4 linked regions of the Homo sapiens genome follow. The protein of the gene in region 1 interacts with the protein of each later gene in a biochemical or structural test. Each region holds a gene or a part of one and is shown in the gene's direction. Other genes may lie near its edges. The genes, in order: COPB1, COPA, COPB2 and COPE.

The links.
Region 2: the proteins of COPB1 (region 1) and COPA form a complex in vitro, tested with the Homo sapiens proteins (one study listed by BioGRID).
Region 3: the proteins of COPB1 (region 1) and COPB2 form a complex in vitro, tested with the Homo sapiens proteins (one study listed by BioGRID).
Region 4: the proteins of COPB1 (region 1) and COPE form a complex in vitro, tested with the Homo sapiens proteins (one study listed by BioGRID).

Annotation. Positions count from the first base shown.
Region 1 is NC_000011.10:14,456,466-14,462,614, reverse strand, and holds the end of COPB1 (coatomer subunit beta), read left to right. Parts: intron 1-1,283; coding exon 1,284-1,429; intron 1,430-2,317; coding exon 2,318-2,407; intron 2,408-3,927; coding exon 3,928-4,083; intron 4,084-4,731; coding exon 4,732-4,791; 3' UTR 4,792-5,103; downstream 5,104-6,149. UniProt on the Homo sapiens protein: The coatomer is a cytosolic protein complex that binds to dilysine motifs and reversibly associates with Golgi non-clathrin-coated vesicles, which further mediate biosynthetic protein transport from the ER, via the Golgi up to the trans Golgi network.
Region 2 is NC_000001.11:160,339,877-160,348,316, reverse strand, and holds the start of COPA (coatomer subunit alpha), read left to right. Parts: upstream 1-5,066; 5' UTR 5,067-5,146; coding exon 5,147-5,186; intron 5,187-8,022; coding exon 8,023-8,136; intron 8,137-8,334; coding exon 8,335-8,408; intron 8,409-8,440. Other genes in the region: NCSTN (nicastrin isoform 1 precursor), read right to left, coding at 3,491-3,595, 4,836-4,920. UniProt on the Homo sapiens protein: The coatomer is a cytosolic protein complex that binds to dilysine motifs and reversibly associates with Golgi non-clathrin-coated vesicles, which further mediate biosynthetic protein transport from the ER, via the Golgi up to the trans Golgi network.
Region 3 is NC_000003.12:139,379,082-139,387,430, reverse strand, and holds part of COPB2 (coatomer subunit beta'), read left to right. Parts: intron 1-2,001; exon of another isoform or gene 2,002-2,427; intron 2,428-3,995; coding exon 3,996-4,133; intron 4,134-7,964; coding exon 7,965-8,051; intron 8,052-8,257; coding exon 8,258-8,349. UniProt on the Homo sapiens protein: The coatomer is a cytosolic protein complex that binds to dilysine motifs and reversibly associates with Golgi non-clathrin-coated vesicles, which further mediate biosynthetic protein transport from the ER, via the Golgi up to the trans Golgi network.
Region 4 is NC_000019.10:18,901,600-18,909,948, reverse strand, and holds part of COPE (coatomer subunit epsilon), read left to right. Parts: intron 1-2,836; coding exon 2,837-2,989; intron 2,990-4,013; coding exon of another isoform or gene 4,014-4,082; intron 4,083-4,319; coding exon 4,320-4,373; intron 4,374-5,096; coding exon 5,097-5,178; intron 5,179-6,525; coding exon 6,526-6,681; intron 6,682-8,349. UniProt on the Homo sapiens protein: The coatomer is a cytosolic protein complex that binds to dilysine motifs and reversibly associates with Golgi non-clathrin-coated vesicles, which further mediate biosynthetic protein transport from the ER, via the Golgi up to the trans Golgi network.

The DNA of each region.
Region 1 (6,149 bases):
AAAATTAAAGGAGCTTATTCTTGGTAGCCTCAGTTTTCCCTGAAAGTTGAAAGAGTGGAAGAATGTCAAGAAAAGAGCCTAGAGGCCGGGCACAGTGGCTCATGCCTGTAATCCCAGCACTTTGGGAGGCCAAGGCGGGTGGATCATGAGGTCAGGAGTTCAAGACCAGCCTGGCCAAGATGGTGAAACCACATCTCTACTAAAAATACAAAAAATTAGCCAGGCGCGGTGGCAGGCGCCTGTGGTCCCAGCTACTCAGGAGGCTGAGGAAGGAGAATCATTTGAACCCGAAGGGTGGAGGTTGCAGTGAGCTGAGATTGTGCCACTGCACTCCAGCCTGGGTGACAGAGTGAAACTCCATCTCAAAAAAAAAAAAAAAAAGAAAAGAAAAGAGCCTAGAAAGAGGAATGTAGGCTCCAATCAGATTATAACTCTCTACTGTGGAAGAAATGGTCATAGAAGCAAATATAGTCAGCCTTCTGTATCCGTGGGTTCCACATCCATGGATTCAACCAGCCACAAACTGAAAATATTTTAGAAAAAAAAAAAAATGGTTGTGTCTATACTGAACATATATAGACATTTTTTCCTTGTCATTATATCCTAAACAATACAGTATAACTATTTACATAGCATTTATGTTGTATTAGGTACTGTAAGTAAGCTAGAGATGATTTAAAATATATGAGAAGATGTGTATAGGTAATGCAAATACTATGCCATTTAATATCAGGGACTTGAGCATCTGTAGATTTTGGTATCCATAGGGGGTCCTGGAAGCAATTCCCCATTAATACTGAGGGATGACTAATCTTGTATCATTAAGTAGTATGGGTCAGCAATATTTATTCAAAAGTATTAGTTAAGTACCTCCTATGGGAACATCGTCCACTTGTATATCTGCTGCAGTGCCTAGTATGCTGCAACTGCTATGTAAGTACTCACTGAATTGAATTATTTGTTTAACCACAAAAAACAAAGTGTGCCTGAGTTCGAATCCTATCCCCACCACTTATCAGTTGTGTGATCTGGAACAACTTACTTAACTTCTCTGCTTTCATTTCCTCATATGTAAGATGGAAAATAATAATACTATCAGAATTGATGGGAGTATTAAACCAGTAATATTTATAAAGCATGTAGAATAGAGCTCTGTACATAATAAGTATTATATAAACAATCTTATTGTTAATAGTGTAGTTCTTTGGATATTTGGATATTAAGATTTTTTAAATTCAAGTTTGCCCCAGTGATTGCGAATCTTTTTGTATATGTAATTGCAGTTTATGATGTCTCTGGAGCAGCAAGTGACAGAAATTGTGTGGTTCTCAGTGATATTCACATCGACATCATGGACTATATCCAGCCTGCAACTTGCACTGATGCAGAATTCCGTCAGATGTGGGCCGAATTTGAATGGGAAAACAAAGTTAGTCCTTGGGAGATTTTCTCATATTCCTTTATCTTTCTTCCTTTTGCCTGCTGTTGAGGAGTCTGCTAATAAAATTAATCTCGCTAAAAAGTGTTTAACATGAAAAGCAAATAGTCTTTCAGTATCTGTTCTTGCAAATTAGCCTTAACTAAAAATCATGTAAGTAGTTTGGTAATTTGCTGTTATAAATTGATTAGAGTAGCAGTTCTATAGCCAATCTGATAGGTTTAGACATTATAGGTAATATTCCATCCCTTCTATGTATGACCAAGAGCTTACCATTTAATCTAGTGCCCGAAAAAGGCTTTACAAAGTTCATGGTCTGTTGAGGAACTTTGTCCCTTTGAGCCTTGACTTTTATTAGAAATATTCTATATGAGGCTGGGCACGGTAGCTCGTGCCTGTAATCCCAGCACTTTGGGAGGCTGAGGCAGGCAGATTGCTCGTGCTCAGGAGTTCTAGACCAGCCTGAGCAAAATGGTGAAACTCCATCTCTACAAAAAATACAAAAATTAGCCCGGTGTGGTAGTCCCAGCTACTCCGGAGACTGAGGTGGGAGGATCACTTGAACATGGGAGGTTGAGGCTGCAGTGAGCTGAAATGACGCACTGCACTCTAGCCTGGGTGACAGAGTGAGACCCTGTCTCAAAAAAAAAAAGAAATATTCTATATGCTTCATATTGAATCTCTGTGAAGTTATCTCTATTGGGAAGTACTGATACCAACCTACAGCTTGTTGGATTTTATAGATGTTATTTAGTTTCTTGGTGTCTACTCTTTCCAACCTAAACAGTTGGAACAAGTTTTTAATATGACATACTGGTGATTCACAGCTTTCTCATAGTAAGATTTATGATCTCCTTGACTTTTTTTTCCTCTCTACAGGTGACAGTTAACACCAACATGGTTGATTTAAATGACTACTTACAGCACATATTAAAGTCAACCAATATGAAATGCCTGACTCCAGAAAAGGTAAAATTTGACTAGGAAATTCAGAAATCTGATGGAATGGTAGAGTAGGTTCCTGGCCTTCCTGTATTTCCTCTAGCACATTTTTGTTATTCAATATGCAGTACCATTCTAGGCTATCTAAAAGATGTTATCCCATAGAATGTTGGAATCTGCTTACCTCTTTCTATTGGACTATACCATCCTACTTTTTCCTAGTGCAGTGACCCAACTGAATAGTCAGATTAATTTTTTTTTTATTTTCTTTTCAATCTTCTCCCCCATTCAGCTAGAGGCACATTCTAAAGTAGTTTATGCTGCACATGGTGGTTCATTCCTGTGATCCTAGCACTTTGAGAGGCTGAGGCGGGCAGATCACTTGAGGTCAGGAGTTTGAGACCAGCCTGGCCAATATGGCGAAACCCCATCTCTACTAAAAATACAAAAATTACCCAGGTGTGGTGGCACGTGCCTGTAATCCCAGCTACTTGGGAGGTTGAGGCAGGAGAATCACCTGAACCCCAGGGGGTGGAGGTTGCAGTGAGCCGAGATCACACCACTGCATTCCAGCGTGGGTGACAGAGTGAAACTCTGTCTCAAAAAGATAAATAAAATCGTTTATTTGTAATACTGGATTAGAAAATGTCCATGAGCTCTTCCGTGGGCTCTGATTGTTGGTTAAAATATATGTGCTCAAATACAGAATCGTTGTTATACTGTGACTTTTTGCTATGTTTGTGTATGTATGAAAAAAACGAGAGAGAAAGAAAAATGAAGCTGGAGCTCTAAGGAACTTTTTTCTTTATGTAAAATTTCTATAATGTTATAATATTCATTTTATAAATAAAATAATGTCTGCTACCAAACAAGTAGGTTTTAATTTATATATTAGTTTATTCAGCATATACTGAGTCCAACAAAAGTAGTCTCTTCCTTCATGGCGCTTAAGGTCTGATATGGGAGGCAGTCAAGCAAGTTAAGTAAACAGAATATATAAATACAAATCGGATTAAGAACTATTTATTTAACATCAGATTTATTGAGGTATAATACACAGTAAAATTCACACTTTTTACATGTATAGTTGAGTTTTGACAAACTCATAAGATTATGTAACCACCACCCTGTATGTAAGTACTGTTTTAAGTGATAAATAACCAATGGGGCTGGGCGTGGTGGCTCACACCTGCAGTCCCAGCATTTTGGGAGGCCGAGGCGGGTGGATCACTTGAGGTCAGGAGTTCAAGACCAGCCTGGCCAACATGGTGAAACCCTGTCTCTACTAAAATTACAAAAATTAGCCAGGTGTGGTGGCGAATGCCTGTAATCCCAGCTACTTGGGAGGCTGAGGCAGGAGAATCGCCTGAACCTGGGAGGAAGGTTGCAGTGAGCCGAGATCACGCCACTGCACTCCAGCTCCAAGCTGGACAACAGAGTGAGACTCTGTCTCAAAAAAAAAAAAAAAAAAGTCACCTATGCTGTTTGGTTTTTGCCTCTATGTAGGTATCTGGTAAAGTAATGAATTTATCACAAATTTTTTCCAGGCCCTTTCTGGTTACTGTGGCTTTATGGCAGCCAACCTTTATGCTCGTTCCATATTTGGTGAAGATGCACTTGCAAATGTCAGCATTGAGAAGCCAATTCACCAGGGACCAGATGCTGCTGTTACCGGCCATATAAGAATTCGTGCAAAGAGCCAGGTAACAGTTCCTTTTTTTTTGAGAGTATCTCTGGACTGACAAAGGGGGGAGGAATTTATGACTTTATTATTTCTATATGTAGTATCTTTTTAGCATTAGATGCATATACACATACAATAATAATATACTCTGAATAGAAGTATAACTTTTCTCATTAAAATTTCTCACCTTTTGGGCCCCTCATTCTGGGATATTTGCCTAAAACCAGATTGATTCCTATGGGGTGTTTGTGAAATGGGTTCTCTAGAATTTTTTGAAAGCCAAGGTGTAAATCTAGTGACTAATTAGCTGGGTGTTGTAGCGCACACCCGGTAATCCCAGCTACTCGGGAGGCTGAGGCAGGAGAATTGCTTGAACCCGGGAGGTGGAGGTTGCAGTGAGCTGAGATTGTGCCATTTCACTCCAACCTGGGTGACAGAATGAGACTTCGTCTCAAAAAAAAAAAAAAAAAAAAAAATCTGGTGACGGCTTGAAAAATCTAGCACTGAAAGGTAATTACCAGTAAAGTTTGGTAAGTCTGTTTGGTATGTCCTTGATTTTATTGTTGATAATGGTGTCATTGAATTGAATTGGGGCTTAATAATATGGAATAACCTACTGATTGTACATAGTTTAAATAATTATAAATATCTTAATTTTTCTTTACAGGGAATGGCCTTAAGTCTTGGAGATAAAATCAACTTGTCACAGAAGAAAACTAGTATATAAAAATAAACAAAAAGTCCTTGAAGCTTTACAGTTAATTTAGGTATGGGCTTACTGGACTCCAACATCTTTTGTACTCTTTCATGCTTATATAGAATCTGAGTTCATGCTGAATACTTTTCAGCCAATAATTTATAGCCTTTCCCTTAAATCAAGATTGAGTTTAAAATTATAGTTTGTCTTTTGTCTTAACAGTTCTGAATGCTGTCCTCAAAGTATATAATGTTTCATGTACCAAGACCCTTTTCACAGTACAATAAACAGATCTATTCATAAATTTTTGTTATTTTATAAATAAATGATTACATAATTTTAGTTATATGGCAATGGATTTCTTTTAGTTGGGTTATAAATTTCTATTATAAATTTAAATTACTGAGTTGTGAATATATGCAGCTTTATTAAGAGAATTTACAAATTCAATGATATAAAATAAGGTAGGCCTTGATTCACTTGGTTGTTTTTTACTTATTTAATATTCCAACATTGCTATCTCTAAAAATGCATTATCATGTTTTGAAGGGATTTGCTCTTGAATTTAGCTCCAGGGAGAAAGTATCAAAATAACTTTTTTTTTTTTTTTTGAGATGGAGTCTGGCTCTGTCACCCAGGCTGGAGTGCAGTGGCGTGATCTTGGCTCACTGCAAGCTCCACCTCCCGGGTTTACACCATTCTCCTGCCTCAGCCTCCCAAGTAGCTGGGACTACAGGTGCCCGCCACCACGCCTGGCTAATTTTTTGTATTTTTAGTAGAGACGGGCTTTCACCATGTTGGCCAGGATGGTCTCGATCTCCTGACCTCGTGATCCGCCCGCCTCAGCCTCCCGGAGTGTTGGGATTACAGGCGTGAGCCACCGCACCCGGCCCAAAATAACTTGAGAAAACAGATCGCTCTGCAGTTTAAAGAAGTATTATGTACCCGAACTGAAATAGATATACTGTTCTTAATTATCCTGAATCATAATGAAGAGTAGATAATCCAAAATAGATTTTTTAATCATTCACATTTAGTTTGGGGTGTTCTATGTTTGTTAGGAATAAAACTGGTTCTAACCAATTACTGAAGCTGGTACTGGGAGGATTCAACTAGAGAGGATTCAAAAAGCTGCCTTTTTCTCTGTTGCCTCCGTGCCTTACTCACATTTAGTTTAGGGTGTTCTATGTTTGTTAGGAATAAAACTGGTTCTAACCAATTACTGAAGCTGGTACTGGGAGGATTCAACTAGAGAGGATTCAAAAAGCTGCCTTTTTCTCTGTTGCCTCTGTGCCTTACTCACTCGTCTCCTTTTCCTCACTTCACACTAGGACTGGGTACCATCACACTGCAGTATAATTCCAAATGCATTTCCAAGCTAAGTTTCC
Region 2 (8,440 bases), on another chromosome or scaffold:
GCCAGGATGCTATACAAATAACATTTTCTATGTGTCTCATGACATGATAAAGATTGGGAAGCACTGTATTAGAGGATGGATGACCCAGAGTCCAGAATACTTTGAATTCTACATAATTCAAGGCATTAGGTAATACTCCTTAAGTCCCCAGTGATCTGTGTGGAGATATCCTAGGGTCTCCCTGTGAGTCTTCTCCCTACAGAAAATTGGATATGTTATTCATCAATTATTTTAGACCAGTAGTTCTCAGCCCTGGCTGTATATCAGCATCACTTTAAATGCCCACTCAGCCTCCCAAAGTGCTAGGGTTACAGGAGTGAGCCACCATGCCCGGCCCTTGCCACAGCATTTAAAACATGGGAAAAGGAACAGATAGTGTGGCAACTAAAACATATATAACTTCGGCCGGGCACAGTGGCTCATGCCTGTAATCCCAGTACTTTGGGAGGCCGAAGTGGGTGGGTGGATCACTTGAGGTCAGGAGTTTGAGACCAGCCTGGCCAACATGGCGAAACCCCATCTCTACTAAAAATACAAAAATTAGCCAAGTGTGATGGTGCACACCTGTAATGCTAGCTACTCAGAAGGCTGAGGCAGGAGAATTGCTTGAACCTGGGAGGCGGAGGCTGCAGTGAGCTGAGATTGTGCCACAGCACTCCAGCCTGGGTGACATAGTGAGACTCTGACACACACACACACACACCCCAAAACTTCAACTCCAGCGAGGACAGGAAGACAAACTATGATACTGGACTGAAAAAAACCTGGATTCTAATCTGGGTTCCAACTAGTAATGGTGTAGTCTTAAGTAACTTGCTTATTTTCTCTGCGCCTTCAATGAGGTTTTCTACCTCTATTCATCTCATACTGTGGGGACAGACGAAAGAAGGAAGAAAGGATAGAAGGAGGGAGGGAGGGAAAAGAAACCTATTTAAAGCCCCCTTTGAGAACTTTAAAGCGTCTAAGAGAAGCAGAGTATTATAATCAGAAATCAAATCTGGGTATCACTTTTTTCTCCTTAGTTTTATCATGTTAGCTACACTAATTAAAAAGGGCGGAGCCTGCTCAGAAAAGACAGATATGACGAAGTAAGATTTGGAAATAAGTAGGTTGAAAAGGAACCAAGATCTTAATGAGGAAGTGGCCACAGTCCCGCTTACCCCCTCTTGTTTCTCTGTACTGGCACGTGGCTTTACCTCTAGAGGCTTTGCTTCCTACAGAGCTGTTTTAAGAACATAGAGTAGAATGACTTATTCCCAAAGGAGTTTTCTTAGAGCCTAGTTACAAGAGGTTGGGGTCCTGGCCTTCTGTACTTTATAGTGAGGTTCCAGCAAGACCAGCAGTCTGATCTCAGCCCACCCTGGACCTAGCTCTCTTCTACCTACAAACCAGTTCAGAAACTAAGTCCAGAGGGCTGGGCATGGTGGCTCATGCCTGTAATCCCAGCACTTTGGGAGGCCAAGGCGGGCAGATCACGAGGTCAGGGGTTCGAGACCAGCCTGGCCAACATGGTGAAGCCCCGCCTCTACTAAAGATACAAAAAATTAGCTGGGCACGGTGGCACGCGCCTGTAATCCCAGCTATTCAAGAAGCTGAGACAGGAGAATTGCTTTAACCTGGGAGGAGGAAGTTGCAGTGAGCTGAGATTGTGCCATTGCACTCCAGCCTGGGCGAGAGGGCGAGACTGCATCTCAAAAAAAAAAAAAAGAAACTAAGTACAACAAAAACTTTATTTGGGGCTGTTTGGAACCAGTCAACCTACTCCCAGTGCTTTGTATAGCAGGGACATGGGACAATTAACAGATACTATAGCTCAGGGAAAGATGGCTAAAAAAGTAGTAACTGCTTCCACGAACAAGTCCTTCACTTCTCAGTGTCCCAGTTTTCTCTTATCAAATGGGAAGAAGGCTTCAGGAAATTATACAGCACTTTTGAGACCACCCTATTTACCTAGCGTCATCAATAAACAACTATTAAGAGGTATTTGACTTTCAGCTTTATGCAAGTACTCCAACCATTATTCCAGGGGTAAACTGAAATTCAGAGGTGATCAATTTGATGATGAAGAAGCCAGTATCAGACCCCAAGTTTCCTGCTTATCTGCAAAACTACATTCTGACAGAGCTATTGTCCATGGGAAACAAAATCTGAAGACAGCAGGTTAGCCTTTAGATTACTACTTTTCCTGCCCTATGATTTTGATAGTTTTTAAAGCCACAGTGTCATGGAACCTTCTTTTGGAACACACAAAGTGTGAAAATAAACGGCCTGTCAGTTGAATTTAAGGAAAAAAAGTTTTAAAAAAGGATAAATAGAATGCTTCACTAATTCCTCTTGCAATTATTCAGCATTTTCTTTTTTTTTTTTTTTTTTTTTTTCAGACAGTGTCTCACTCTGTCACCTATACTGGAGTATGGTGGCACAATCTCAGCTCACTGCAACCTCCGCCTCCTGGGCTCAAGGGATTCTTCTGCTTCCGCCTCCCGAGAAGCTAGGACTACAGGCATGCCATAGCAGCCAGCCGGCTAATTTTTGTATTTTTAGTAGAGATGGGGGGGTTTCACCATGCTGGCAGATTGGTCTCAAACTCCTGACCTCAAGTGATCCACCCGCCTTGACCTCCTGAAGTGCTGGGATTACAGGCATGTGCCACTGCGCCCAGCCTATTTGGCATTTTCAGTGCCTTCTCTTCAGATAGTTCATTGCCTTTAGCCCATTTTGGTTCCAAAAAGTTCAGAGTGCAAGTGATAACTGGACACCATAGAATATGAGACTTTTTTCTCCTTAAAAAACAGTATAATAGGGTGGTTAAGAGTGCTGGCTCGGCTGGGTGCGGTGGCTCACGCCTGTAATCCCAGCATTTTGGGAGGCCAAGGTGGGTGGATCACTTGAGGTCAAGAGTTCGAGACCAGCCTGGCCAACATGGTGAAACACCATCTCTACTAAAAATACAAAAATTAGCTGGGCATGGTGGCAGGTGCATGTAATCCCAGCTACTCAAGAGGCTGAGGCAGGAGAATCACTTGAACCTAGAAGGCAGAGGTCACCGTGAGCCGAGATCGTGCCATTGCACTCCAGCCTGGGGGACAAGAGTGAAACTCCGTGTCAAAAAAAAAAGGTCTCTCAGCTTAGTGCTCGGGCCACCAGATCCTGGCATCATCACTTATTACCAGTATGATCTTGGGAAAGTTACTCAACTTCTTTAAGTTTTAGTTTCATCATTTATAAAGTGACAATAACAGTAAGACCTATTTTGTGGGGTTGTGGTTGGGGTTGTATGAGATGCACATGTAAAAAGCTTGGTATGCAGCATTTACTAAATGTTAGTTCTTATTAATTATCTTGCCTAGCTTGACAGACGGTTATCTGTAACTGCCTACATACAGTCCAATATAAGTGTCAAATCTCCTAAGCAGGACATGGATGTTACTTAGTATCTAGGGCACAGACAAATATCAATGTCCACAAACATGAATCCATCTCAACTCACACTGGCAGCCAATCTGATGAGTGGCGTTGAGCAGGCGAACACAGGGAGCTGTTTTATTTAAGGGGATATATATCTTCCTCTCCACTGAGTTTCCCCTGCACAAACCTGATCGGAAGATAAAAAGTGTTAGAAAAATTTGAGAGACACAGGTACTAGCTTCTATCGTGTCATTAACCTGAAGTATGGCTTGGGTAAATCATTTAATATCATACTTTCTAAAATGAGATTAAAGTCCATTCTTCTGATTTCTTGGGCACACACTTATCGTAACAGATACATGTTCTACATGGCACCCAGCTATGTGCCTCAAAGGGTTATTACAAAGTCCATGTAGCGCCATTGACAGTGACACTAAAAGAGAGAAAACTTGGTCAAAGGAAAGGTGTTTGACCTTAGATTTGCCAGATTCTGGTTGCACAGGTGATCACACTTCTGCTTGTATATCCTGTATGTATATTACTAATTGGTTAATACACAGGTGCTGGGCTAAGAAAACTTTCTGAGGCATTTTTCCAAGAGTGTGAACAGAATTGAGAGAAACCTTATGACATACACGGGTCAGTTAATTTAACATCAGCAGGTCATTTGTGTGCCCACAGTGTGGGGCAGCTGTAGTTTCTCCTTTGAGGATCCTTAAAAACAATGTGAATTGGGGGAAGGCACAGTCATAGTTATATACAGGCATTTGCATTTTAGGGCTTGACCAACTAAAAAGCCATGTATCAGTAAATGAACGCGTATCAGCAAACACTTAAGTACATTATAAATGCCAAAAGTTCCTTGAATTGTTACTTCAGGGTCTTCACAGTTAAGAGTACCCATATCCTACCTTATTCTTGCTTTACTGATTAAAAAAAAAAAAAAAAAAAAAACCTGAGGCAAGGCAGGGGGACACAGACTTAGGATGTAATCAACAGAGGAAGAAATAAGAAATCCACCTTTTAAGCGCCGCACAGCACCCACAGAACAAGATTGCTTTCGTCTCAAAAAGTCTAAACGCGAGGAAGAAAGCTAACTTTCACACCTGTTCCTTTCGACTGTGGGGTGGGTGGCTGGGGTTGTGGGAAAAACGAGACATCTGGACAAAGTGGGAGAGGGTCAGGCTCGAAGTCCAGGAAGAGGCCTAGAGAAGGGAGTGAAGCGACACGACGTGCTGCGGGGGAGAAGGGACCTTCAGGTCCAGGCAAAGGGGGAACTTCTGTCGTGGGAACGAAAAAGAAAGAGGATTTACAGGGTGGGGGGACAGAGGGGCAGCAGGAACCAGAAGGGAGACAGTGGCGGTCGCGGCGGGGCCGATCCGAGAGTTCCCCTTAGAGAACGGAGCTCACGGGCGGGGAGGCCTCACCTGCTAGTAGGACGCAGAAAGACAGAAGGCGAAGGAGACCCCGACTTCCCGGGTCAGCCCCAGAGCCACCCCCTGCCGTAGCCATCTTGCCTCTCTGCTGAGCGGAAGCCCCCGTTCGGCTCCTGTCTGTTAGCGGCCTCTCTAGGCTACCACTGACACCGTCTCTGTGGCCCGGAGCCTAAGAGACCGGAAGTTCGTGTTTCCAGGCGCTTCCGGAAACCGCGGGAGAGGGTCGCTGACGTGGAGGCGTCCGAAGGGCAGCAGGGTGTGTCGGGGCTCGGATTAAGACATCGGAGTCGGAGACCTGAGAGATGTTAACCAAATTCGAGACCAAGAGCGCGCGGGTCAAAGGTAGTGGAGAATAAAAGGGGGAACATGGAGGTTGGATGTCAGGAGCGGCGCTGACACCGGGGAAGAGAAAATGGGTAGAGGTGTTGGTCGAAATGGGCCCACCAGACGGACCCGGAGGAAGACGGAGGGTGGGAGAGAGGTTGGGCCTGGCTAGCGGTTCTCCAGTCCCCTCTTCTTTGGTGTGTCCTTGGGCTTCGATTTACCTATAAAGTGGCTCCCACACTGCAGGGGATTCCTTAGACCCCCTCCCTATTCTTTCTTCCCCCTTTCTCTCTTGGCTGTGCTCCCGATTTGTGTTGTTCTGCTCCAAAGGCCCTGTGATCTGTTGGCTTTTTGATGACTGTGTTATATGGAGTGGCCCTGGGAACTGAGTCTCGATCTCTGTTACTCGCACCCGAGTCAGTAGCCTTTTTGGAGACGAGTAGTGGCAACCTCACTTAAGGAGGCCTTGGCTGCAGCATCTCAACATCAGTGCCTCCATTCGGCTTTATTTACTACCCGGAAATAGTACTTGAGGCTTATAACCCCAATAAAGTCTCAACTTGATAGAGTTGCCAGATAAAATGCAGGATACCCAGTTAAATTTGAATTTCAGGTAAACAATGAATAGTTTTTTAGTCTGTCGTTGCTTACCAGAAGTTCAAATTTATCTGGAAATCTCGTATTTTTATTTGCTAAGTACGGCAGCTCTAGAGCTCGAGTGTGGGTCGTTGGGGGTGGAGGGCAAATACTGAGATCGCAGTATTAGCCTCAGAACGTTAGAATGTGAAAGTCAGAGAAGTAAGGTCTCCGAAGACCTGGAAAAAATAGTATCTAGAATATTTAGTGAGATGCAGCGTAACAAAGTGGTTAGGAACTTGGTCTTTGAAGTCAGATGGGCTTGCCTTGGAATCCTGAGACATCCACTAACAAGCTGTGACTTGGATGACTTACTTAATGTCTCTAAGTCTGTATTTCCTCATCTGTAAAATCGTCTTTTATAGAGAGTATTAAAATGAGAAAGTATATGGAGTGTATTTATTACAGCGCCTGGTGTAGACTCAGTAGCTCAAAAACTGGAGGTTGTTATCAATGTGTGAATATATTCTGAGCAGTTTCTAAGTCTCTTGGGAAACTTGACCTTGAAAGATGGGTACCATTAAGAATTTCTGAGACCTGTATAGGTGAAATGTGAAATGGGTCTTCATAATCTTTCAGTTTTCTTTTCTGCTCCTAATTTCTTGCTGGGCAGTACAGAAGGAAAAACAAAGATGTCATAATATTTGAGGGCAAACATCCATTGTTGAGTGTACTTATATATCATAATTAAAAAAAAGAACCTAATGGAAAAATAGACAATTTAGAAGAAAAATTGTAAATGTTCAATAAATAATTAAAATAGTTCCACCTCACTAGTAATGAAAGAAATGCAAGAAAAAAAAAGTTAAGTTACTTTTTTGGGGGGAGGGTCTTAGATTTATAAAACAAAACAACAAATAGCTGATAGCAGCCTGTGTGCAAAATGGGCACCTCCATAAACTTCATGAGACTGTATATTGATACAGTGTTTTTACATTTAAACTATATGTACTAAAATGTTAAGTGCACATATTCTATTCCTGAGCAATCTCACAGGTCTTTAGCCTAGGGCAGTAATAATGCAAATAGGCTAGATTATGTGTAGAAGTATCTTCAGTAGGCTCTTCTGATAGCCAAAAATTGGCGGACAAAATGCCTGTTAGAATAATATAAGTGTAGTACATTTGTCCCTTGTAGTTAAAAAGAATGAGGTTATGTTTATATGTACTTCCATGAGATCCATATTATATAGTTAAGTGAGGAAGAAGTTTGCAGAACAACATCATAACGTGATCCCCACTTTCATAAAATACTAAAGCCTATGTCTATGTGTAACTGCATTAAAAATCTGAAAGGATACACTTCAAACTGTTAGTAGTTGTTACCTCTGGGGACTTCCATTTCCAGTCATGATAGAATAACAAGAGCCAGATTTACCTTCCCACCTTAACTATACAACTGAACAAAATGTATGAAACAAAGGTTCATACATTGCTCACAGATGTTGGGCAACAGGCAGTGCAGGAAAATAATTCTCCAGAGAAGGCAAATAAACAAGGTGAGTCCTGTGATTGTCGTAGATTACTGCCTAGAGAGTTTTTAGGCTTCAGTGAAGAGGGGAATCCCTTGGTCTTTCTGAGGAGACATAAATTTAGAGTGTGGGGAAGCAAAGATGGCTAGATTTTGTTGGGCAAAATACCGGAGAAGAGGGGGCTGCAGAGAGAGAGCACTAGAGATCTGCAGGATGTCTTCTCAGGTCTTTGTTTGAGTACTGATCTGCATGTGAGAAAACTATTCAAAACCTGAAAAAGGACCACTGGAAAGGAGAAGGCAGAGCAATCCCCAGAGTTCACACTAGTGAACTGGGACTAGTTTGTGTTCCTACTTGCCAGAAAGGAAAGACTTCCTAATATTACAGGGCTTCAAATAGAGACCTCAGATGGCTATTGCTTTAATAGTGGTTCCAGATTAAGCCTAGAATGAAGGCTGCTGTAGCCCCTCTGTAATAAAACCTAAAAGCAAGCCTTGAAAGGATCAACTGATTCCAAGTAACTTAATTGTATCCTAGAGCAAAGCCCAAGAATATGTAAAGGAATATGACAAAAATCTAGTACCAAACATAAAATTCACGATGTCTGGCATCCAGTAAAAAATCATCAAGCATGTCGAATGAATGAACCTAGGATTAACCTTGATGTTTCTTTTTCTTATCAGAATTGACAGAAGGTGACATCATGGGGCTTAGTTAGCTCATTGTATCATTTTCTATTTTTTTCAGGGCTCAGCTTTCACCCCAAAAGACCTTGGATCCTGACTAGTTTACATAATGGGGTCATCCAGTTATGGGACTATCGGATGTGCACTCTCATTGACAAGTTTGATGAACATGATGGTGAGATATTTCTAGGAGGAAGTTAAAGGAGTATAAGTATTTATAATATCCTGGGGTATTTTAAGCCTTGTTTGACATGGATTCCTCTATGATTAAAGAATGTGGAAATGATAGAACTGAAAAATCCTGAATAGGAATCACCTTAGAGATTAGAAAGGATAGCTCTGTCTAACATACATTGCCTGCCTTCTCCACCAGGTCCAGTGCGAGGCATTGACTTCCATAAGCAGCAGCCACTGTTCGTCTCTGGAGGAGATGACTATAAGATTAAGGTACAGAGGGTCTGTCATAACTGAGAATAAAG
Region 3 (8,349 bases), on another chromosome or scaffold:
GGGATATATTTAAAGTTGAGGATACAGTGTGAGCATCCTAATCATCTTTGTCCCAAAGTACCTAGTACATTGTCTTATTCAAAATAGTCACTTAACTGTTGGGAGAAATATTATCACAAGAACCCTTGCCTGTTCGTTCTTTCTTTCTTTTCTTTCTTTTCTTTTTCTTTTCTTTCCTTCCTTACTTCCTTCTTTCCTTCTTTCTTTCTTTCTTTCTTTCTTGACAGAATCTCACTCTGTCGCCCAGGCTGGAGTGCAGTGGTGCAATCGTGGCTCACTGCAACCTCCACCTCCCAGATTCAAGTGATTCTGCAGCCTCAGCCTGCCGAGTAGCTGGGACTGCAGGCGCGTGCCACCACGTCCAACTAATTTTTTTTTTTTTTTTTGTATTTTTAGTAGAGACGGGGTTTCACCATGTTGGCCAGGCTGGTCTCAAACTCCTGACTTCAGGTGATCCTCCCGCCTCAGCTTCCCAAAGTACTGAGATTACAGGCATGAGTCACCACGCCTGGCTGCCTGTTCTTTTTTAAACTGAGATTTGTGCTTTGGGAGTATGTAGAGGTTTACTGGGGTTGCTCAGAGTTCATTGGCCCAACTTATGGAGCATCACTTTTACTCAATAATCAATAATTTAAAATATTTTAAAGTAAAATGTTCACAATTTGTAAGTGTCCAATTTCCTCATTACTGGAGGAAAATTGTGAGACATGCTGGCTTATATGAAAACCCTCACCATGGTTCCTGCCTGGTACATAATAGACTCTTCATACCTGTTGACTCCATAGAGATTTAAAAAGAAGTTAAAATTTGTAATAGTAATTTATGGGGCAGAATTCAGAAATGAAGTAAAAAGCCTTGATTTTGGGAACTAGCAAGGAATGTTAAGATGATGATTTGAAAGTGGAAAATTGGAGCTGGGAGACCGAGGTGGGTGGATCACAAGGTCAGGAGAGGAGTTCGAGACCAGCCTGGCCAATATGGTGAAACCCTGTCTCTAAAAATACAAAAATTAGCTGGACATGGTGGCAGGCACCTGTAGTCCCCAGCTACTCGGGAGGCTGAGGCAGAATCCCTTGAACCTGGGAGGTGGAGGTTGCAGTGAGCCGAGATCACGCCACTGCCCTCCAGTCTGGGCGACAGAGCAAGACTCTGTCTCAAAAAAAAAAACAAGAAAGTAGAAAATTGGAGAGAGGAAGGGACTGATGACAGTGAAAACATTTTTGAGGAGATTGAAGAGAAGAGCCAGAGAACTCTGATCTTTTAAAGTAAGAGGTAAAGGTTGTTGCTGAAAATGAAGGAGGCGTGGGTAGAACAAGACTTGAAGTAGTCAATGACCCAAATTTGATAAAAATCCCCAAAAAAGATGAGTAAAAGCATTGTGAGGTGTTTTGTCTCAGGAAGTTGTCTCTGCTAGATCTTCTTTTTATATTCAAAAGTAACCTTAAATTTCTGTCCCATTCATGATCATCATAGAAGATCACAGCAATAAAGATTTGACAGTAACTCAACTTGCCAAATGAGCTTTTAGGTTGTGTTTAAGACCTGTTGAAGGGGAAATATATTTTAAATCAGTCTTTTCTCAGCATGCCTCCTAGAGAGAATTAAGCCCACTGCCCTAAGGATCATTGTATATATTGAATTAACTTTTCTCCTATAATGGCATTTTTTGGAGAATGGAGAAAATAGTTATTCAAATAATTATCTGTTCTGTAATTCAAAGGAAGAATTTGGCTTGAAAATGCTAGTATAAACTATTCATATTTTCTGACTTGAGAGAATGTTTTTATTTTTGTTTTAAATTTTTCCAATTTTCATTGTTTCTGTAATTTAAATCCATTAAAATATTTCAGACATTCCCATTTGATACCAAAGGCCATCATGCATAGGGATATAACCCTTATTGATCACACATTATGTTACCTAGCATTTACTAGTATTTTTGACAAGATAAATCTACCATTTTTCTCCAAAGAACTCAATATTATGCTTTATGGTTACTAGGACTTCATGAATAACACTTCTTCAGAATATTTCCTGATATGACACTATTGACCTGGGCACAAAATTGTGATTTGTGAATATTTAAAATTCATTGGCCGGGTGCGGGGGTTCACGCCTGTAATCCTAGCACTTTGGGAGGCCGAGGCGGGCGGATCACAAGGTCAGGAGATCGAAACCATCCTGGCTAACACGGTGAAACCCTGTCTCTACTGAAAATACAAAAAATTAGCTGGGCATGGTAGCATGCGCCTGTAGTCCCAGCTACTTGGGAGGCTGAGGCAGGAGAATCGCTTGAACCCGGGAAGCAGAGGTTTCAGTGAGCAGAGATCAGCGCCACTGCACTCCAGCCTGGACGACAGAGCGAGACTTCGCCACTGCACTCCAGCCTGGACGACAGAGCGAGACTTCGTCTCAAAAAGAAAAAAAGTAAATTTATTTACTAGATAATTCTATGAACTAGAGGTTCTCAAAATGTGGTCTGCGATTCCTTAAGAGTCCCTAAAACTCTTTCAGGAGGTCCACAAATTAAAATTATTTTCTTAACAGTGAGACGCTATTGGCACCTTTCACAATGTTGATATTTGCACTGATGGTGTAAAAGTAGTGGAAGGTAAAACTGCTAGTGAAGTGACACCAAATTGTACTGTTAGTATATTCTTCATTGTGACAGTTTTTTAAAAAGTCATTTTCACTTAAGAATGTCATTGATGAAACAGTAAAAATGTTATTACCTCTCCACACTTGAGTATGCATCTTTTAAATTCTGTGTGGTGAAATGGGGAGTATGCATAAAGCAGTTCTACTGCATACCGAAGTATCGTAGTTGTCTCAAGGGGAAACACTTGTAGCGTTTTTAAGTTGTGAGCTTTACTTGAAACAATGACTGAGAAACTCTGCTTATTCAGACTTGAATATTTGGTCGACATTTTTTAAAAACCTGAAAGAGGTTGGCTGGTCCCTGACAGTATTTCTTGCCAATGATAAAATTAAAGCTTTCAAGTGAAAGTTCGAATTTTGAAAAACTCACTGAACTTGATGGATTTCCAATGCTTAAAGGCTTATCAGTTGAAGTAGGTGGTGAAATTAGTGAATGTGTAATTTTTTTAATACAGTATCATGATGTTGTTAGCATCTAGAAGATGTGCATAATTCAGTGGACCAGCATTTTCCAAACGACCAATGCTTAATGGTAGAAAAACATGCATGAGAGAAAGATCCATTCAAAGTATGGACTTAACCAATGGATTTTAATGTAACGAAGTATAAACAGCTTATTGATACGGTTTCAGATTTTACCTTGCAAGTAGCCTTTAAGAAACTACCACTTCTCGAATTTCGAAGAATTTCAAGTAATGAAAAAACTATTAAGATACTCCTCACTTTCCAACTAGGTATCTGTGAGACCAGGCATTATTTTGTAGACATTAACCAAAACAACATATCACAACATATTGAAGGCAGAAGCAGATAATGAGAAACCATCTGTCTTCTGTTAAGTCAGATTATAAAGAGTTCTGCAAAAATGTAAAATATTGCCACTCTTTTCACTAAATTTTTTGAAAACATAGTTATTTTTCATAAAAACATGTTATTTTAATTAACATGTACTGGATTTATTTTTGTTATTTGAAAATGAATTAATATATAAATATTTTAAAGTTGTCTCAGGTTTAATTTTTAACATGGTAACATGCCAATAGCTAAAACTCACATAAACAAAAGCTCTTAGGGGTCCTCAAAGTGTTTAAGGACTATAAAGGAATCCTTAGAGCAAAAAGCTTGAAGACCACTGCTGTAAATCTTAAAATGTTGAATATTCTGATTTTTTTGATGTGTAAATGAAGAAATAAGTGCTTAGACTTGAAACTGTTTCAAAAGCTTAGCAAAGTAGTAGCTGAATTGTTTTGTAGGCCTATTCATGCACTTATTTAGTTAAAATCTCAAACATATTTTATTTGGCTTAGCAATTTAATTTTTTTAATGTTTCTTTTTAGCCTCTGCGACTTGATATCAAAAGAAAGCTAACTGCTAGATCTGATCGAGTTAAGAGTGTGGATCTGCATCCTACAGAGCCATGGATGTTGGCAAGTCTTTACAATGGCAGTGTGTGTGTTTGGAATCATGAAACACAGGTAGGAATTTTTCAGGACTGTATTAGAAATAAAATACTATGTGAGACTGTGTTTATAATGAAAGAGAAGAAATATTATAACAGAATCCAGAATCTATATGCAAACTGCTTTCTCAAGTTGGTACAAAGTATTTTAAATATGAAGGAACTAACATTTATGAGGGGATAGTTTGTAGGAGAAACTGTCCTGGGTATGTTATATACAATATTTAAATATAACAACTCTGACTTAGGTAGTATTAGCTCTTTTTTGAAATTGAGAAAACTGATGGTATTATAGAATCACTTGCTAAAGTATTTAATCGTTAGTTTTCCATTCAGTGAATACTCTATCTTAAGAATGATATCGTTAAATTTATTTTTCTCCCAGATGCCCAATATAATGATACACAGATAAATCTTTCACTCAGCCATATAGATTATATCAGGGAAATATTTATAGTCAGCTTTTGATTATACACACATCTTACAGATTGTCTGCCTGAATGCTTGACTCATTCTCTTTCACCTGAGTAAATAACATATCCTTCAAATTAGTTTGTCTCATATTTTCCAGTCTTCCTAGACTGTATTTAAGAGTACAAAGCATATAGTTAGCACTATACTATACAGTTGTGTCTACTTATATAGTAATTATCCTTAACGTCCAAAGTTAAGTTCTTGAAATCCAGGTAAAATTCGCATTTGAGGAATTTAAAATGGCAAAATGACATCAAGGAACCAAAGCCAGAAGTAAACCTAAAAACACCTTTATACTTTTATACTCACTGTAATGAAACAGAAATGACTGTACACTAAACTCATACCCTGTATTAGTCTGTTCTCACACTGCTGTAAAGAACTACCTGAGACTGGGTAATTTATGAAGGAAAGAGGTTTAATTGACTCACAGTTCCACAGGCTTAACAGGAAGCATGACTGGGAGGCCTCAGGAAACTTAAAATTTTGGCAGCAGGTGAAGGGGAAGCAAGCACCTTCTTCACATGATGGCAGGAGAGAGAGAGCAAAGTGGGAAGTGCCACACACTTTTAAACCATCAGATCTCATGAGAAGTCACTATCACGAGAACGGCAAGGGGGAAATCCACCCCCATGATCCAATCACCTCCCACCAGGGTCCTCCTCCAATTTGACATGAGATTTGGGTGGGGATACAAATCCAAACCATATCATAGTCCATCAGTGACATTTTATATAAATTAACATTTTGTTTTCTGCTGTATCTCAGTACCTATAACATTACCTGGCACATAGTAAATGCTCAATAATTATTTGTTCAACCAATGAATAATATGCATTTCACTTATCACTAGTTCAGTATTTGTGTTCTCTACAATTTCAGATCTTTATCTTGTGAATTGTTTTTGCTTTGATGCAAATAACTTTTTTTTTTTGCTTTTTGTTTAGTTCTTGAGATGTTTAAAATATTTCTGATTTTATGTTTAACAGATACGTTGGTGTCCTCTCTCTCTGATTATTCCTAGGGATTCCCTCTTATCAGCTACATTTACCTATCTCAGCTCTATCACTTGATCATCGTATGTTCTAAAGCCCAGGCGTACTTTTCTTATCTTTCTCTAGGCTTTATTGTAATATATCTCTGCTTTATCTGCATTTCCACTTTGCCTCCTTTTTCTCTTCTATACCTTTTTCTGCCCTATGACAGGACCATCTGCTTCCCCTTTCATAATTCATCTCAGTGGTAATTTCATGTTTAATTTCCTTCTTTCCTCTAAGAATGGAGGTTCTGTGAGGACAAGGATTACCCTCATCTTATTTCCCACTGTTGGTCCAGTGCATGAGGCACTACCTGATACACTGTCAGGCTCCTGGTAGATAGTAAGTCTTTGTTGAATGATTAATCTGTCTTTGATTCTCCCTGTTTTTTCCCTGTGTTTATATCACCAACAGCATTTACCACTCCTATATTGAGAGCAAATTCTTGAGAGAGCCAAAAAGGTTTTTGGAAGTAAAAAGGTTTTTAGATGTACTTGAATTTCAAATAAGGAGATGCTATATATTCTTTGAGGTGGTACATGCAGTGGTTTAAAAAACATAGTATTTTAGGATTTGAAGCCAACTTGCTGATTAAATTATATAGGCAAGCCTTTTAACCATGCTGAGCCTCTTTATTTATCTGAAGTGAAGATGATATTATTGCCTTGCCTACATCACAGGATTGTCAAAAAGATAAAATAAAATTAGATAAAATTGTGTATGAAACCTATAAAGTACCATATAAGTATTAGTCATTAGTTATACTTTCCTAATCTACGTTGAGTATTTGTATGTATTGTGTGTGTAGCTTTTCTTACTCTTTATTTGCATCAGTCATAGCCCCTAACATGGCGTTGAACCTTGGCTATTTCTTCTGCAGCTGCTTTATTTTTACTGCTCAGCAGATCCCTGGATTTGTTGGCTCCTCATGAGCTTTTGTGGATTTTTCTGCCGTGTTATAGATCGCATGTTGTGTCTACTCTCAGTTTCTGTATCATAGTCAGCTGGTAGTGATTCTACAGGTTAGAGTTGAAGTGCCTACTCATTCAGCCTTTGTCTAAAGAATCTTTGAACTCTGGCTTGAAAAGTCAGAGTAGGACAGTTCTTATGAACCGGTCCCTATTACTTTTTTAGTGCACATGGTTAATCAATCAGTAAGATTATATTGTGTTTCTTAGTTATTTCATTTTTGCTCTCTGATACAAAAAAGGATTAGAAAATGATAGTTTGACTTTCAGACTTTTAAGAACAGGCATCAAAGAAGGAGAACAAAGAGGTACCATGATCTCTGCTCTTTCTAGGAGGGTCTCTACCTTTATCCTATGTGTATAATTCCATTCTGAGCAGCTCGGAGGAACATATAAGTCACGGTGTTTTCATATTTTATTAAAAAGAAATAATAACATTTGTATGGAATCATATTGCTAAAGCATGCAAAAGAATTGTACCTTATTCATGAGTCACTTTTATGGGTTTCAATTTCAAAAAGACTGACTAGGTGCAGTGGCTCACGCCTGTAATCCCAGCACTTGGGAGGCTGAGACGGGTGGATCACTTGAGGCCAGGAGTTCGAGACTACCCTGGCCAACATGGTGAAACCCCGTCTGTACGAAAAATACAAAAATTTGCTTGGCATGGTGGTGCACACCTGTAATCCCAGCTACTTGGGTAACTGAAGCATGAGAATCACTTGAACCTGGGAGGCGGAGGTCGCAGTGAGCCAAGATTGTGCCACTGTACTGCACTTCAGCCTGGGTGACAGAGTAAGACTGTCTCAAAAAAAAAAAAAAAAAAAAAAAGAAAAGAAAAAAAGAAACTAAGAGCTAATTCATTCAACAAATATTTATTACACACTACTTGTGTGCCAGCCACTGTTCTATCCTCTGCCTATACAGTGTGAAAAATATTCCTGCCTTTGGAGAGCTTAGCAGGAAAGATTGGCACTAAACATAATTATGAGGTGCTACATTATGAAAGGGAAGTACAAGTTTCCATGGGTGGATTTTCAAGTCAGAGACAACAAGAGCAGAGGTGAGGCTGGGAGTAGCCAAAGGTGAGGCTGGAAAAGGGAGGGAAGGGCTGGAGCACAGAGGATCTGGAATACCATCTTGTGGATATTTGCCTTCTCTTATCTTTTAAAAAGTGTTTTAATTTCGAATCTATTAAAAGATAGTTGGTCTTTTTTAAAAATTTGAATGTTGAGCTTTTATATTTTAGCCTGAGAATATACTAAAATGAGAAGTGATCTTAAAAATTGGATGTTTGAAATATAACAGAGTAGATTTTGTGGTTATTTTCTTATAGCTCAATTTGTGTATTCTTGTTACATTTTAAAGACACTGGTGAAGACATTTGAAGTATGTGATCTTCCTGTTCGAGCTGCAAAGTTTGTTGCAAGGAAGAATTGGGTTGTGACAGGAGCGGTAAGTAATTAATATGAATCTCTATTCCCATTTTCTGAATTGGTCAATGATTGTGTAAATTTGTTGCAGGATTTTGATTCCCGATTTGTTTTGTTATTTACAGCAATGTTTTGAGGCATAGACTTTATTCCTTGAGCCTGTGATATAGTTTTTTTGTATAATTTACTTGATAACAGGGATGATGGTTTTAAAATTTCTGTTTCTAGGATGACATGCAGATTAGAGTGTTCAATTACAATACTCTGGAGAGAGTTCATATGTTTGAAGCACACTCAGACTACATTCGCTGTATTGCTGT
Region 4 (8,349 bases), on another chromosome or scaffold:
ACATGCTTGTGAATATGATATCATTTGGAAAAAGGGTCTTTGCCGATCAGATTAAGAGATAAGGAGATGAAGACATGCTGGATTTAGGGTGGGCCCCAAAGCCAAGGACTTGTGTCCTTTTAAGAGATAAAAGGAGGGCTGGGTGCAGTGGCTCATACTTGTAATCCCAGCACTTTGGGAGGACGAGGTGGGCAGATCACCTGAGGTCAGGAGTTTTCAAGACCAGCCTGGCCAACGTGGTGAAACCCCATTTCTATTAAAAATACAGAATTAACAGGATGTGATGTCTGTGATTCCAGCTACTTGGGAGGCTGAGGCAGGAGAATCGCTTGAACCTGGCAGGCAGAGGTTGCAGTGAGCCAAGATCGCACTAGTGCACTCCAGCCTGGGTGACAGCGGGAGACTGTCTTAAAAAAAAAAAAAAAAAAAGGAAAGAGGCCCACAGAGTTAAGCCCATGTGACAACAGACTGGAGTGACATGTCTGCTAGCCAAGGAGCACCACGAGTGGCCAGCAGCCACCAGAGCTGGGAGAGAGGCCTGGGACGGCCTTGCCCTCCAGCCTCCAGCTGGAGCCAGCCCTGCCGCCACCTTGACTTCAGACTTACGGCCTCCAGAGCTGTGAGGAACGAATCCCTGTTGTCCTTAACTGCCCGGGCTGTGGTGCTTTGCCACAGCAGCTCCAGGACATTGAGACAGGTGACCTCCCAGGGCCACTGTTTCTCCCACCCTGCACTTACTTCACCAGCTGGAGTGAAGGCAGGGAACCCTGGGTCCCCCAGGAGCAGCAGCTGCTGTGAGCATCACAGAAAAGCAGCCCCGGAGAGCAGGCGGTCCAGGCAGGGGCTTGTGGTCCGTTCATCTGGCTGCACAGCCGCGACCTCATTGGCAGGACGCCCCGGGGACAAGGAGCATCCATTAGTAATTGGTTTTGGTTTTGATTTTGTTTTCTTGAGATACGGTCTTGCTCTGTCGTTCAGCCTGGCATACAGTGGCACAATCTTGGCTTACTGCAGCCTTGATCTCCCAGGCTCAAGTGATCATCCCACCTCAGCCTCCCGAATAGCTGGGACTACAGGCACGCATCACCATGCCTGGCTAATTTGTATATTTTTTAGAGATGGGGTTTTGCCTGGCCGGGCGCAGTGGCTCACACCTGTAATCCCAGCACTTTGGGAGGCCGAGGCGGGCGGATCACGAGGTCAGGAGATGGAGACCATCCTGGCTAACACGTGAAACCCCATCTCTACTAAAAATACAAAAAAAATTAGCCGGGCATGGTGGCGGGTGCCTGTAGTCCCAGCTACTCGGGAGGCTGAGGCGGGAGAATGGCATGAACCCGGGAGGCGGAGCTTGCAGTGAGCCAAGATCGCACCACTGCACTCCAGCCTGGGCGAAAGTGCGAGACTCCGTCTCAAAAAAAAAAAAAGAGAGATGGGGTTTTGCCATGTTGCCCAGGCTGGTCTCAAACTCCTGGGCTCAAGCGATCCGCCCAGTAATTGATTTTGTTGCTGTTGCTTGTTTTTGAGATGGTCTCCCTCTGTCACCCAGGCTGGAGTGCAGAGGTGTGACCACAGCTCACCGCAGCTTCAACCTCCCGGGCTGAAGCCATCCTCCTGCCTCAGCCTCCCAAGTAGTTGGGACTACAGGCGCCACCAGGCCCAGCTGACTTTCTTACTTTTTTGTAGAAAAAGGGGTCCTACTATGTTGCCCAGGGTGGTCTTGAACTCCTGGGCTTAAGCGATCCTGCCTTGGCCTCCCAAAGCGCTGGGGTTACAGGTGTGAGCCACAGTACCCGGCCCCATTGGTAATTGTAACACCTTAGGATGACAACATTACAGTACCAACGCTACGACAACTGGCAGTGTTTATACACCCTTGTGTGCTGGAGCCTCAGGAAGCTTTGTAAGATGGTCTTGGGAGCTCCTTGCTCCTCCCCTGCATGATCCCTGTAACATGGTCCCTCAGCACGGGGAAACAGACTCAGACCTGAAGTCACTTGTCTGTTGGACCTGGCACTGTGGCGAGCCCTCAGTGGAGCCTGGTTGGTATCAGACATGCCATGCCCTCAGTGACACCTCAGACACGGGCCCTGGGCAGACAGCCCCCAGATGCGCGTGGATGCTTACGGGGTCACAGAGCCACGTTTGAACCCAGAAGAACACCAGCTTTGGTCTAGGGTGGCCCCCTCACCTGCCTTCTCTTTTTAGCTGCTCAATAGCCATGGGGAATGGAGGGTCTGGGTCCAGTTAGGGACATGGAGGCATGGGTGACCTGTGCCCTCGGAGCTGAGCCGGTCCTCAGCCTTGCCTGGGCTCAAGCCTGGCCCTGGCCCGCAGCACACTGGCCATCTTCAGGGTGCAGCCAGCACCCTGGGCTCTCAGGGACTGAGGGCAGCTGCCCTGGCAGTGGGGGTGCCCCAGGGCTCCCATCCTTCTGCACGGCCCCTCGGCACCCAGGCCGACCTCCTGCTAGAAGACGTGGCCTTGAAGCCCACAGGGTTGATGGGTTATGGTCAGGAGTCCCAGCTGGGCCCACCAGCCTCCTCAGGAAGGCGGGTGAGGTTGGTGTGAGACTGACGGTGCCTCCTCATGTCCCCTTGGAGCGCCCCACCCCACATCTCCCGGCCTCGGGTCCTTGCCTGGCCCAGCATGAGAGGTGCTTCATAGGAACGGAGGGAGGACATGTCGGGACAGCTCGATGCTCGGCCTGCTGCTGCTCTGCACCCCCAGGGCCTGGCTCACCCTCTCTGGACCTGTCTGCTTCCAAGGAAGGGGACCCTCTGAGGTCCCACAGAGGCCACCCCAGCTGTGGGTCGTGAGCATCTCTGTCTTGCAGGGACAGCATCGTGGCCGAGCTGGACCGAGAGATGAGCAGGAGCGTGGACGTGACCAACACCACCTTCCTGCTCATGGCCGCCTCCATCTATCTCCACGACCAGAACCCGGATGCCGCCCTGCGTGCGCTGCACCAGGGGGACAGCCTGGAGTGGTGAGTGGCCTCCCTGCTCTGGGGCCAGCCCAGGGAGGCAAGTGCCCCCTGCCACATCTCCAGGCTGCGCACGGCCTCGCTGGCTGTCGTCATGGGAGCAGAGAAAGGTGGTGCTGAAATGAGGCCCTGGCCTGCTGTCCAGGCTCCAGCTCCCCTGCCCAGTGTGGGAGGCACTCCCATCTGCGCACCAGGCTGCAGATCCAAGGACACGGTGCCCAGGCTGCAACCCTCTGTTCCCAAGGGCAGAGCAGAAAGCGGCTTTGTCTCTGCTCGGTTTCTGTGTCCCCACCCCCCACGAAGCCTTCTGTGTCTCGGCCCTGGGCCCAGTCTCTCAGGCCTCCCCGGGCCCCCCATACCGGCCCTCCTCCAGGGCCCTCTGGGGTTGGGGTGCTGAAGCCCTGCAAGGTTGGTGCCCCCCTCCACCCTAGGATGTGACTCCGGGCCATGTCCAGGGCACTGGTCACAGAAAGTGTGTCAGTTCTTCCCCGTGAGCTGTCCCTGCAGTGCCTGCCTTCCACTGTGAGTTGCAAGCTGGGCATTTCATGGTCGCTGTGGATCTGCTCCCATCCCACCTCCATCCACAGAGGGCTTAGAATTGCAGGGCGAGCCAGGCATGGTGACATGCACCTATGTTTCCAGCTACTTGGGAGGCGGAAGCAGGAGTATCCCTTGAGTCTGGGAGGTGGAGGCTGCAGTGAGCCGTGATGGTGCCACTGCACTCCAGCCTGGGTGGCAGAGCCAGACCCTGACTCACACACAAAAAAGAAAATAAATAGGGATGTCACACTGTCGGCGAGCCGGCCGACTCGGTGCTGGTCCAGGTGCTGGCTCCTGTTGGCAGGAAAACAAGAACAAGAGGCCTCACGAGTAATTCGTGGTCACAGCCACCTGGGGCTGAGAGGGATGAGGGGACGAGGGGGCCTGCAGAGAGTGGGTGGCCCCAGGGCTCTGCTGCAGGTGCAGGTGCAGGGGCGGGTGCGTGGCCCTCCTCTAGGGCCTTGTTCCTGAGTGTTGATGCCTCCAGGGTGTCGAGTCCGGGCAGGGCCCTCCATCTGGAAGCACAGCCCATGGAGGCTGCTTCTCCAGATGGGCGGTGAGTGGGCCGGGGCCTGAAACCCCATCCTGGGTACCTCCCCCAGAGCTCCTGGGCCTGAGGAAGCTGAGCGGTGAAATGTGGGAGTGAGGGTGTCCTCCTCTGCTGGGCGGGGCTGGTGGTCCTAAGCACAGGACTTAGGAACATCCCAGACACACACAGTGAGCCCTGGGTGTGGAGCGGCCATGCAATGTGTCTGTGGCGACCCGCTGACCGCCCCCTCGCCCTGTCCTGCAGCACAGCCATGACAGTGCAGATCCTGCTGAAGCTGGACCGCCTGGACCTCGCCCGGTGAGCCCTCCTGCCCCTCTCCACCCGCACTGAGCCACAGCCCAGAGCGTCACAGCCCAGAGCGTCACAGCCCAGAGCGTCTGTGGTGCTGTCATTACTCTTGTTGTCTTTCCTTTCCATGGGGGTGGCTTGCTGTCGTTCAGCCCTTCCCTGCAGTATGTTGCCAGGGAGGAGGGCCATGGCTCTCTGTGCCTCAGTTTCTCTCTATGCAGTGGGTGGCAGGCCTCTCCCACAGGGTGAGGGTGGGCTTCATGGAGGGAGAGTGGAGGTTGTGCCTGGAGCAACATGTTACTTGACCAGCTTGTAACTGTGCCGTGGGGCTGGCGGGGCCTGCACGTGGCATCACCAGGTCGGAGGCCATGGCTGGGGGTCCAGGACTCCCCTGCTGCCGTTTCCAAAGCCCTTGCCTCAGAGTTGTTCACACTGTAGTTCCGTTGCCCTTCCCTGCGTTCCATCCTCCATGGAGTGAGTCTCTCCTGAGCTCTACCTTGTGGTGGCCACCCTGGGGGGCCATAGCTGGCCCCAGTCCCACCTTCCCAGGGCCTGCACGTGGTCAGACGGGCAGGGTGGCTCGGGCACTTAGTCGTGGGGTATGAGCATGCAGTGGAGCACAAAGCAGGGGCCATCCCCAGGCTCCGGTGGGCCCCAAGTGGGGACAAGGCAGGGATGGCCAGGCCAGGGCCCTCGGCCACTCAGCCCCTCTGTCATCTGTCCCCGCCCCAGGAAGGAGCTGAAGAGAATGCAGGACCTGGACGAGGATGCCACCCTCACCCAGCTCGCCACTGCCTGGGTCAGCCTGGCCACGGTGAGCCCTAGGCCATGAGGTGGGTGGGCATTGCGGGCACCTGGCTGAGCAGGGTCTGTGGGCACCCCCACCTGTGCGTAGGCTGCTGGCCACTCCAGTGGGGCTCCAGGATCAGGCCGTGGCCCCTGCCAGCCTGGCATAACTCAGCCTTGACTCCATTCCGGGCTTCTCACAGCCAAGCGACTTGGCCAGAGCCAGAGCGAAGAGATGGTGGGGGCGGGGACGGGTTCCTGAGCCTGAGGCACAGGGGTACTCGAGGGTCTGGGTTGGCCTGGCAGGCCCTCCTCCCCTCAGGGCTTCCTGGGGTTTTCTGCGACTCAGCTTTGCTCTCCAGGGTCCTGGTCGCCAGCCAGGGACGGAGTTCAGTGTTCCCATAGCAGCGGTGGAGATGTCCTCAGCTCCCAGGCCTGGGCACCTCCGCCCGGCAACAGCCCCTCTCCTGGTTTCTGGGACTTGGCCCCCTTCTGAGCCACTCTTTTGTGTGGGCCTATTAAAATGTGCTTCCTGGCTGGTCGCAGTGGCTCACGCCTGTAATCCCAGCACTTCGGGAGGCCGAGGCGGGTGGATCATGTGAGGTTGGGAGTTCTAGACCAGCCTGACCAACATGGAGAAACCCCATCTTTACCAAAAATACAAAATTAGCTGGGCTTGGTGCCATGCACCTGTAAACCCAGCTACTCAGGAGGCTGAGGCAGGAGAATCGCTTGAACCCGGGAGGTGGAGGTTGCGGTGAGCCAAGATCGCGCCAGTGCACTCCTGCCTGAGCAACAAGAGTGAAACTCTGAGAAAGAAAAAAAAATGTGCTCCCCGTCCCTGCCCGCCACGGGGCTGAAGCCTCACCCAGACAGACTTCCAGTGACCGTCTAGTATGGTAGGACAGGCCCCGGCAGACCTATCGGGTAGTTTGGGCTGTTTTCACTGCCTGCCTTGGCCTCAGGCTCCCCCTGCAAGTGTTCTGCTGTTCTGAGCAAGTGGACAGGTCAGGGCTGCTGGTCACAGAGCTGACTCCTCCTCCTCTGACGTGCTCAGTGACCCAGTGGTCCCCACTCAGACCCTGAGCCAGCCACCTGTGCACTGAGGCCTTGGAAGCCCCAGATTCCACCTCTGTGTACTCAGCACTCCGGGAGCTGGGTGGGAGGTGGGGCAGGAGGCGGCCACGAGTCTTTAGGCCCCATCAGCAGAGTACAAGTTACGGGTAGTCCCCATGGCGGAGTGGCTGTGCCTTGAACCGGGCACACCAGATTCGTCTCTGTGCAGTGCTGGAGTCCCCCCCGCTAGGGGAGGGGGCTGGCGGGGGAAGGGCCGGGCAGCAGGGGCACAGGCAATGATGCGGGACCCTCCCTGCAGGGTGGTGAGAAGCTGCAGGATGCCTACTACATCTTCCAGGAGATGGCTGACAAGTGCTCGCCCACCCTGCTGCTGCTCAATGGGCAGGCGGCCTGCCACATGGCCCAGGGCCGCTGGGAGGCCGCTGAGGGCCTGCTGCAGGAGGCGCTAGACAAGGTAGGCACAAGCCTGTCCCAGAGTGGGGACGGAGGGAAGGCCAGGCGGCCAGAGGGTGGGGTCAGGGCGGACAGAAACAAGTGTAGCAGAGACCCCCTGGGTGTGCGTGTGGCCCCACAGGGCTTCTAAGGCCCAGTCAGCAGCGAGATCCACAAAGCAGGGATCTCACCTGCAAAGAAATCCAGATTCCGGCCTCACAGAAATGGGGCATCTGGGCAGCCTGGGCCTCAGTGGTCTGAGCCGTCCTTGTTGTCACCTCAGCTGCCTGGCCCGGGACCTGCAAGTGGGACCCCTCACCTGAGTACATACTCAGTATTGGAGAGACACTCCCCGTACTTATGTAGGGGAGAGTGTGCTGTGGACAGGAGCTCTTCGTTGAGAGAGCGCTGCCTGCCCAGGGTGGCTGCAGTCATCTCCTGCCTGATGTCTGCAGTCTTTTCTTCCTTCCTTCCTTCCTTCCTTCCTTCCTTCCTTCCTTCCTTCCTTCCTTCCTTCTTTCCCTTCCTTCCTTCCTTCCTTTCCTTCCTTTCCTTCCTTTCCTTCCTTTCCTTTCCTTCCTTTCCTTCCTTTCCTTCCTTTCCTTTCTTCTTTTTTTTTTTTTTTGAGATGGAGTCTCACTCTGTCACCCAGGCTGCAGTGCAGTGGTGTGATCTCAGCTCAATGCAACCTCCGCCTCCTGGGTTCAAGTGATTCTTTTGCCTCAGCCTCCCAAGTAGCTGGGATTACAGGCGGCTGCCACCACGCCTGGCTAATTTTTGTATTTTTAGTAGAGACGGGGTTTTGCCATGTTGGTCAGGCTGGTCTCAAACTCCTGACCTCAGGTGATCCACCCGCCTCAGCCTCCCAAAGTGCTGGGATTATAGGCGTGAGCCACCACGCCTGGCCATCTGCAGTCTTTATGAAGAGTTTATGTTATGTTAAATTAAAAATATATATATATTTTGTAAAGACGGGGTTGTTCTTGCTGTGTTGCCCAGGTTGGTCTCGAACTCCTGGCCTCAAGTGATCGTCCCACCTCAGCCTCCCAAAGCATTAGGATTATAGGTGTGAGCCACCATGCTTGGTGGATTTTTTTTTTTTTTTTTTTTGAGATGGAGTCTTGCTCTGTCGCCCAGGCTGGAGTGCAGTGGTGTGATCTCGGCTCACTGCAAGCTCTGCCTCCTGGGTTCATGCCATTCTCCTGCCTCAGCCTCCCGAGTAGCTGGGACTACAGGCGCCCACCACCATGCCCAGCTAATTTTTTGTATTTTTAGTAGAGATGGGGTTTTGCTGTGTTAGCCAGGATGGTCTCAATCTCCTGACCTCATGATGCTGCCCACCTTGGACTCCCAAAGTACTGGATTACAGGCGTGAGCCACTGTGCCCAGCCTGGATTATTATTTTTATAATCAGAAAGGACATCAAAGCTTTTTCCATTTTGGAGAAACGAATTTTGGGGGGTTTTTTGTTTGTTTTTTGAAACGGTATGCCACCATGCGTGGCTAATTTTTGTATTTTTTGTTAGAAATGGGGTCTCACTGTGTTGTCCAGGTTAGTCTTGAACTCCTGGGCTCAAACAATTCTCACCCTCCTTGGCCTTCTAAAGTGCTGGGATGATAGACATGCGCCAGTGCGCCCAGCTGAGAAACAGTTTTAATCTAGTGACAAACACTGGTGAAGCCCTCCTCC